2 separate regions of the Homo sapiens genome follow, and region 1 is linked to region 2. The links come from fine-mapping of genetic effects on gene expression. A gene starts in region 2. The other region holds a variant in brackets. All regions are shown on one strand. Distances are between the middles of the regions.

Region 1 (4,387 bases), 60 kb after region 2:
TATGCTTATCCTGTATTTTTTCCTGAATTGATAATAAGCAAGTCTTTTTTTCTCCTGAATTTTCAAGTTCACCCAGAATTAAAAGTCTTTTCCTCCCCTCTGTCTCAACAGGCTTATTTAGACCACTTCAGCAGAGCCTTGCAATATGAATATGCCTCTAAAGGAATCTTTGTACAGAGTCTAATCCCTTTCTATGTAGCCACCAGCATGACAGCACCCAGCAACTTTCTGCACAGGTGCTCGTGGTTGGTGCCTTCGCCAAAAGTCTATGCACATCATGCTGTTTCTACTCTTGGGATTTCCAAAAGGACCACAGGATATTGGTCCCATTCTATTCAGGTAGGAGTGTGCTTCAGGTCTCATAATTAGATTAATGCATCATGAACCTATCTCAGTGATACAGAGAAATCTGATTAAAGCCTAAGATGAGAATTGTAAATTCTGACTCTTAAGCCTGACACTTAATAATTTTGGTTAAGACACTAAATTTTCTTTCTTTTTTTTTTTGAGATGGAGTCTGGCTCTGTCACCCAGGCTGGAGTGCAGTGGTGCGATCTCAGCTCACTGCAAGCTCCGCCTCCCGGGTTCATGCCATTCTCCTGCCTCAGCTTCCCGAGTAGCTGGGACTACAGGCACCTGCCACCACGCCTGGCTAATTTTTGTATTTTTAGTAGAGACGGGGTTTCACCGTGTTAGCCAGGATGGTCTTGATCTCCGGCCTCATGATCTGCCTGCCTCAGCCTCCCAAAGTGCTGAGATTACAGGCGTGAGCCACCGTGCCTGACCAAAGACACTAAATTTTCTTTTGTGAAATTATTACCTTAAGAATTTTCAAAAGTTCAATCTATGTGGCACCTTAAAGTGAAATATACTACTTTGGCTGGGGTGTGGTGGCTCACATCTGTAATCCCAGCACTTTGGGAAGCTGAGGTGGGTGGATCACCTAAGGTCAGGAGTTCGAGACCAACCTGGCCAATATGGTGAAACCCTGTCTGTACTAAAAATACAAAAATTAGCTAGGCTTAGTGGTGTGTGCCTGTAGTCCCAGCTACTTGGGAGGCTGAGGCAGGAGAATCGCTTGAACCCTGGAGGCGGAGGTTGCAGTGAGCCAAGATCACGCTACTGCACTCCAGCCTAGGCGACAGAGCAAGGCTCTGTTTCCAAAAAAAAAAAAAGAAATATGCTGCTGTAAGTGGATGTTAGGACTATAAAAATACTAAGTATTTACATGGGAATTTCAAAGTAAAAGATTCTAGTACTGCTTGAGGGTTACCTCTCAGTGAAAAATATAATCCAAAAAAACCACAAAACCACAAGATAGGGCTATATTTCATGCAACCATTTTATCAAATAATATCTCTGTATAGTCTTAGACTAATTTTTTCAAGAAGCATAGAATTTTTATTTTAAGCTTATTGTTTAGGCATGACAAAGGATTGGTACCTTTTAGTACTGTAGAAAGTAACTTTCTTAGATATTTGAAATTGTGATCGTAAGTATTAATTTGAGAATGCATAATTATCTATTACAATATATTTCAGTTCCTTTATCTGGTGTAGTAAAGAGATGTGCCCTAGTTTAGAATTTTTTTTTTTTTGAGATGGAATTCCGCTCTTGTTGCCCAGGCTGGAGTGTAATGGTGCGATCTTGGCTCACTGCAACCTCCACCTCTCGGGTTCAAGTGATGCTCCTGCCTCAGCCTCCGGAGTAGCTGGGACTACAGGTGCCTGCCACCACGCCCAGCAAATTTTTGTGTTTTTAGTAGAGATGGAGTTTCACCATGTTGGTCAGGCTGGTCTCGAACTCCTGATCTCAGGTGATCCACCCGCCTTGGCCTCCCAAAGTGCTGGGATTTACAAGCGTGAGCTGGCAGGGCGTGGTGGCTCAAGCCTGTAATCCCAGCACTTTGGGAGGCCAAGGCGGGCGGATCACGAGGTCAGGAGATCGAGACCATCCTGGCTAACACCGTGAAACCCCGTCTCTATTAAAAATACAAAAAAATTAGCTAGGCGTGGTGGTGGGCGCCTGTAGTCCCAGCTACTCAGGAGGCTGAGGCAGGAGAATGGCGTGAACCCGGGAGGCAGAGCTTGCAGTGAGCCGAGATCACACCACTGCACTCCAGCCTGGACGACAGAGCAAGACTCCGTCTCACAAAAAAAAAAAAAAAAAATACCAGTGTGAGTCACTGTACCTGGTCCGAATTTTTTTTTTTTTTTAATATTCGGAGTTTTCTTAATTATCAAACAGATATTTTTGGGACTGTTTGCATGAAGAGTATTAGATTTGCCACTACCAAATAAACATGTAAGTATATCAACAGTTAATTATGACTTTTATGAAAAGTGAGAGATTAATAAGAAGCAGTTTTGGTCGGGCGTGGTGGTGGCTCACATCTCTAATCCCAGCAGTTTGGGAGGCTGAGGCTGGTGGATCACCTGAGGTCAGGAGTTCGAGACCAGCCTTGCCAACATGGTGAAACCCCATCTCTACTAAAAATATAAAAATTAACTGGT[C/A]ATGGTGGTGCACGCCTGTAGTCCCAGCTACCTGGGAGTCTGAGGCATGAGAATCGCTTGAACCCAGGATGCGGAGGTGGCAGTGAGCTGATCACGTCACTGTACTCCAGCCTGGGTGACAGAGCTAGACTCTTATCTCAAAAAAAAAAAAAAAAAAAAAAAAAGAAGAAACAGTTTTATTTAAGTAGTTGTTTCCAGGTCCTTTAATTACTTGAGAAAAGCAGAGAAACCTAAAAAGTAGTCTTAGAAGTCACTGACCATAAAATTTTTTTAGAAATAAAGATATGAGGATCAGGTTTAGGTGCAGTAGATGTTTTGACTGTGTTTATAAAACACGAACAGTTTACTCAAAATTAAATTTTGTTCACATTGATAAACTTTCCTTGAGAATGTATTTTTCTGCCAAGAAATTCTGTTAAGCTGATTTAATTCCTGGAGTAGTTTTCTGTATAAAGTTGTTAAAACTTTCTGTTTTCATTTTATGTTACTCAAATTATTTTCAACACTATCATTTTTTATTTCCAATTTTACATCAAAGATTTGATTCATCCTTTGCTGTTTTGTCCATGGCATATTTCTCTGATAGCTTTTGCTGCTGTGATTTTGTTCACAAAGTGCGTGAGTGTGTGTGTGTGTGGGTGTGGGTGTGTCCTCCCTGGAGAGTAACCTGTGTCCATTTATTGACAAGAGGATTGAATGACCTCTATTATCATTCATCAGTTCAGTTCAAGACTAGAATGTCAGTACTTGCCAAGGGCCTGTCTCTCTTCTCTTTCGTATACACGGTGTTAGAACTTTCATTCGGTTCTGAACAAATCTGTTAGAGGAGTGTAGGCTTTCTCCACCTCAGCACTGTTGGCATTGAGAGCAGGTAATTCCTTGACATGGGGAGCGTCCTGTGTATTGTAGGATGTTGAACACCATCCTGGGCCTCCACCCACTAGATACCAGTAGCATCCACTCCCAGTGTGACGACCAAATTTGTTTTCAGACATTGCCCTATGTCTGCTGCTAGCACAAAGGCCCTGAGTGAGACCCTGAAGCAGAGCAGCATCAGCAGGACTCCCTTCCCTGGTCCCCTGAGCACCCCCATCATAGGTCAAGATACCATCCCAAGGTACTGGTGTTTCTGACCTGTTTTCTTGTTGAACTTTGTTCCATACTACCCCTCAAGCCCCAGTTTTCTCATAGAGTACTAACCACGTATGCGTCTGTCTGTTCCAACTGATTTATTCCTATAATGATTTTGTGGTGTTTTTTTTTTTTTTTTTGAGACAGAGTTTTGCTCTGTTGCCCAGGCTGGAGTGCAGTGCCGCGATCTCGGCTCACTGCAAGCTCCGCCTCCCCGGTTCACACCATTTTCCTGCCTCTGCCTCCTGAGTAGCTGGGACTACAGGCTCCCGCCACCACGCCTGGCTAATTTTTTGTATTTTTAGTAGAGATGGGGTTTCACCCTGTTAGCCAGGATGGTCTCGATCTCCTGACCTCATGATCCACCCGCCTCGGCCTCCCAAAGTGTTGGGATTACAGGCATGAGCCAGCGTGCCCAGCCGATTTTGTGGTTCTTAACCAGTGAACATTTTGTTCATATCACGTTAAGTAAAGACAGAATTGTATTTACATGCAGGACAGTCCAGCCTCATTACAGAAAGTCGGGTAGGTGGGTGGTGGTCATGTTTCTGTTCCATGTAGAATCTAGGGTAAGATCTTAGGCAAAAGTAGGTATTCAGTACAGTAGTACCTGGAGGCTTTTTCCTTTGTTGTATTTAATGTGATTGGTGGGTATTTGTTGTGACTGGTGGGTATTTGTTGTGATTGATTGGTGGGTATTTGTTGTGATTGATCGGTGGGTATTTATTGTGATTGGTGGGTAT
Region 2 (4,387 bases):
GTATATTCATACAATGGAACACGACTCACTAATTTAAAAAGGAAACAACAGCTGCGTACACAACACAGGTGAATCTATTAGGCACATGGCGTGGAAGAAGCCAGACACATCCTCTCCATGATTCCACTTATGTAAAGTTCTTGAACTGGCAAAACTAATCTGTGGTGATAAGAGTCCAAATAGTGGTTCCTTCTTGAAGGAAGTATTGACTGGGAAGTGGCACCAGGGAATTTTCTTTTTAGAAAAAAATTTTGTAGAGATGGGGGTTTTGCTCTGTTGACCAGTCTGGTCTTGAACTCCTGGACTCAAGCAACCCTCCCACCTCGGCCTCCCAAAGTGCTGGAATTATAGGCATGAGCCACTGTGCCTGGCTGGAACTTTCTTGAGTGATAGAAATGTTCTCTGTCTTGATCTGGGTGGTGTTCATGTGGGTTTCTATGTATGAATAAAAATTCAATGAGCTGTACATTTAAGACTCGTGTGCTTTACTGCATGTTGAGTATATGTCAGTTACAAAAGCAAATTGATAATGGCTTATTCAGAGAAAGGAGGAAAGGAAGAAATGGAACTGGCCTCGCAGTGCCAAAGCTGGATAGGCGTTTTACAAGGGTAATGTAGAATATTAGTGTGGTAGGCAAAATAATGGTTCCCCCAAAGATGTCTACAGCCTAATCCCCAGAACCTATGAGTATATTATTTGGCAAGGGGGCATTAAGGTTGCAGGTGGAAGTAAGGTTGCTAATCAGCTGCCTTTAAAATAGGGCTCTCACCTGTAACCCCAGCACTTTGGGAGGCCCAGGTGGGAAGGTAGCTTGAGCCCAGGAGTTAGAGACCAACTTGGGCAACATGATGAAATCCCATCTCTACAAAAACTACAAAAATTAGGCCGGGCGTGGTGGCTCATGCCTGTAATCCCAGCACTTTGGGAGGCCAAGGCGGGTGGATCACATGGTCAGGAGTTCAAGACCAGCCTGGCCAATATGGTGAAACCCCGTCCCTACTACAAATACAAAAATTAGCTGGGTGTGGTGGCAGGCACCTGTAGTCTCAGCTACTCGGGAGGCTGAGGCAGGAAAATCGTTTGAACCTGGAAGGTGGAGGTTGTAGTGAGCCAAGATCACGCCACTGCACTCCAGCCTGGGTGACAGAGTGAAACTCTGTCTCAAAATAAAAAAAAAAAAAGAAAATTAGCCAGGCATGGTGGTGCTTGCATGTAATCCCAGCTACTCGAGAGACTGAGGTGGGAGAATCATCTCAGCCTGGGAAGTTGAGGCTGCAATGAGCCATGATGGTACCACTGCACCCTAGCCTGGGCGACAGAGTGAGACCCTGTCTCAAAAAAATAAATAAAACAAATAAAATAGGGAGATTATCCTGGATTACCTGGGCGGGCCTACTATAATCACATGGGTCCTTACATGGGAAAGAGGGAGACAGAAGAGTAAAAACCAGAGAGATGGCCTCATGAGAAGAATCCGACTGGCATTGCTGGCTTTGAAGATGGAAAGGGGTCATGAGCCAAGGAATGCAGGCAGCTTCCAGAAGCCAGAAAAGACAAGATAGTGGACTCTTCCTTAGAGCCTCTCAAAAGGAACACAGCCCTGCTGGCACTTTTAGTCCAGGTAAAAACTTCCAGATAAAAACAATATAGGCCAGGCGTGGTGGCTCATCCTGTAATCCCAGCAATTTGGGAGGCCTAGGCAGGCGGATCACTTGAGGTCAGGAGTTCAAGACTCAGCCTGACCAACATGGTGAAACCCCGTCTCTACTAAAAATACAAAAATTAGCCGGGCATGGTGGCGCAGGCCTGTAATCCCAGCTACTCGGGAGGCTGAGGCAGAAGAATTGCTTGAACCCAAGAGGCGGAGGTTGCAGTGTGCCAAGATCGTGCCACTGCACTCTAGCCTCCATCTCAAAAAAATAAATAAAGACATAGATGACAGCTGAGAATTTGGAAATTGATTCTTTAAAGCAACGGTTCTCAAAGTATGGCCCCTGGACCAGCATCATCTGGGAACTTGCTAGAAATGCAGACTCTTGGGCCACATCCCAGATCTACTGAATCAGCAACTCGGGGGGCAGAGGTAGGGTGGAGCCTAGCAAACTTGTAACAAGCCCCCCAGGTGGTTCTAAGGCTCACTGAAGTTTGAGAAGTACTATGTTAGGATAACGGTAAGGTTCATGACTGGACAGTGGTTCTTAAAGCATGGCCCCCAGATAAGCAGTTTCAGCATCACCTGGGAACTTAGGCAAATCATCAGGTCCCACCCCAGACTCACCGAATTGGAGACTGTGTTTTAACTAGCCCCCCAGGTGCTACTGCTGACGCACGCTAGCTAGAGTTTGAAGACCACTGCCTAAAGCTCTCCCTGCCTGACCACCCCTGGAAAAGCTTCACTCTTAGTAGGTATTTGTACCCTTATTTGTAAAGCCCGCTTCTTGGGATTTAAGGACAATCAGTAGGATACCTACTGACCAATACAGGTCTGGCTTATAGTAGGTGTTCTGTGGGAGTTCGTTAAATGATTAATTTAATACAACTCTGAGGAAATTGGTGAAGTAGATGTGGGATTCGAACCTAAGTCCACCCGGCCTCCACTATTGGGACTCAAGGGAGCTTTATTTCCGCTGCCCACGCGCCGCCTGCACGCCCGTTCCCTCTCCTCCCGGGAGGGGGCGCGCCAGGACCCTAAGAGGCCTGGCTGGGAGGCGGGACTTCCTGCCTCCGCAGGAGGCACTTCCGGTCCAAACCGGAAGACCGTGGGTAGCTGCGGCGGGGCTGACCCGTCCCGAGTGCCAAAGCTGGGGTTCTACTTGAGATTTCCCTCGTGGTGCCAGGGTCCGGCGAGCATCACGCCGAGGCCCATTTTCCAGACGACCACGACGAGGCCGGGGTCACGTAAGTGCACGCATGCGCCCCCTCCGCGCGGACTGCGCGTGTTCGAGGAGCGGACCCGCAGATGTAGGAGGGGAGGGACGCCCCCAATCCCCAGTCCCCGCGGCAGGCTCACGTTTCGCAGTCCCCGGCCTGTCGTTATTGCGGATCCGACTGAGTTCTGTAGCCTTGGAGGTCTAAAGGGTCCTGGAGAGCCCGCAGCGAGGGCGGGAAGCCGGCCGGGGAAGTCGAGGCTGCCTTGTCTGAGGGCTTTTGTGGGGTCGTGCTCTCCACCAGCGCCCTCCGCCTGTCTAGGATCGTTTCAGGCTATGCGGTTCCAAGAGAAAATATTTTTGTTTCTATTTTATTTTTGAGATAGAACCTTGCTCTGTCACCCAGGCTGGAGTGCTGTGGCATGATCTTGGCTCACTGCAACCTCTGCCTCCCAGATTCAAGCGATTTTCGTGCCCAGCCTCCTCGGTAGTTGCGATTACAGGTGTACACCACCACGCCCGGCTAATTTTTGTATTTTTAGTATTGACAGGGTTTCACTGTATTGGCCGGACTGGTCTCAAACTTCTGGCCTCAGGTGATCCGCCCGCCTTGGCCTCCCAAAGTGCTGGGATTGCAGGCGGGAGCCACCGCACCCGGCCAAAGGGAAAAGATTTTTGTATAGCGAGACTCTAATGCTAGCGTTTGCATTTCGGTGCATGCGAGAGCACTGGTTCGGAGCTCTGCCTCTGAATCGGATGGGAATCAAGTCTTGGCTGTGGCAGCTAAGAGCTGTTGGACTAAAGTTCTTGCTGAGCCTTCGTTTCCTGAACTCTGTTAACAGGGACGGCGATAGAAGAGTGCAGCATTTAGCATGTGCCTGGCAGATAGATGCTGGCGCTTGGTCAGCGAGCGCTGCTGTTATTTTTGCCCCTGTTATTTTTGTTAATTAAAAAGGAGGGATGCTATGGCTGCTCATACTTCTAGAGGACTGTATTTACCAAAGCCTTGTGATGTAATTTTTTTTTTTCTTGAGATGGAGTTTCGCTCTTGTTGCCCAGGCTACAGTGCAATGGCGCGATCTCAGCTCACCGCAACCTCCGCCTCCCGGCTTCAAGGAATTCTCCTGCCTCAGCCTCCCGAGTAGCTGGGATTACAGGCATGCGTCACCACGCCCGGCTAATTTTGTATTTTTAGTAGAGACCGGGTTTCTCCACATTGGTCAGGCCAGTCTCGAACTCCCGACCTCAGGTGATCCGCCTGCCTCGGCCTCCCAAAGTACTAGGATTACCGGCGTGAGCCACCGCGCCCGGCCCCTTGTGATAGAAATTTATTTTTTTCAACCCCTAGTGCATTTTCTGGGAGGCACTGTGCTTGACAGTAGGAAGACGATGCTCAGATGCAGTCCCTGGCTGTGGAGTAACTTGAGCGTCTTGGGGGTGTAGTCTGTAAATGTATGATGACGGTACTTACGAGCCGGGAGAGAGGCTGCCCCTTGCCGTCTTTCTGACTCCATCTCCA

What was found. PIP is the estimated chance that this variant, and not a neighbour inherited with it, causes the effect.
Region 1: its variant is fine-mapped to the expression of TAF1C in atrial appendage (GTEx, PIP 0.97).

What each region holds. Positions count from the first base shown.
Region 1 is chr16:84,125,500-84,129,886 of GRCh38, reverse strand. It overlaps HSDL1 (hydroxysteroid dehydrogenase like 1), which reads left to right. Exons shown (of 6, transcript NM_031463.5): 5 at 112-339. Among named protein-coding and RNA genes, the nearest start is that of MBTPS1-DT, 11 kb to the right of the region's middle. The variant C/A (reference allele first, on the strand shown) is at 2,514.
Region 2 is chr16:84,185,413-84,189,799 of GRCh38, reverse strand. TAF1C (TATA-box binding protein associated factor, RNA polymerase I subunit C) reads left to right here and starts at 2,743. Exons shown (of 15, transcript NM_001243156.2): 1 at 2,743-2,899. RefSeq lists a silencer at 2,548-2,757 and an enhancer at 2,403-2,903.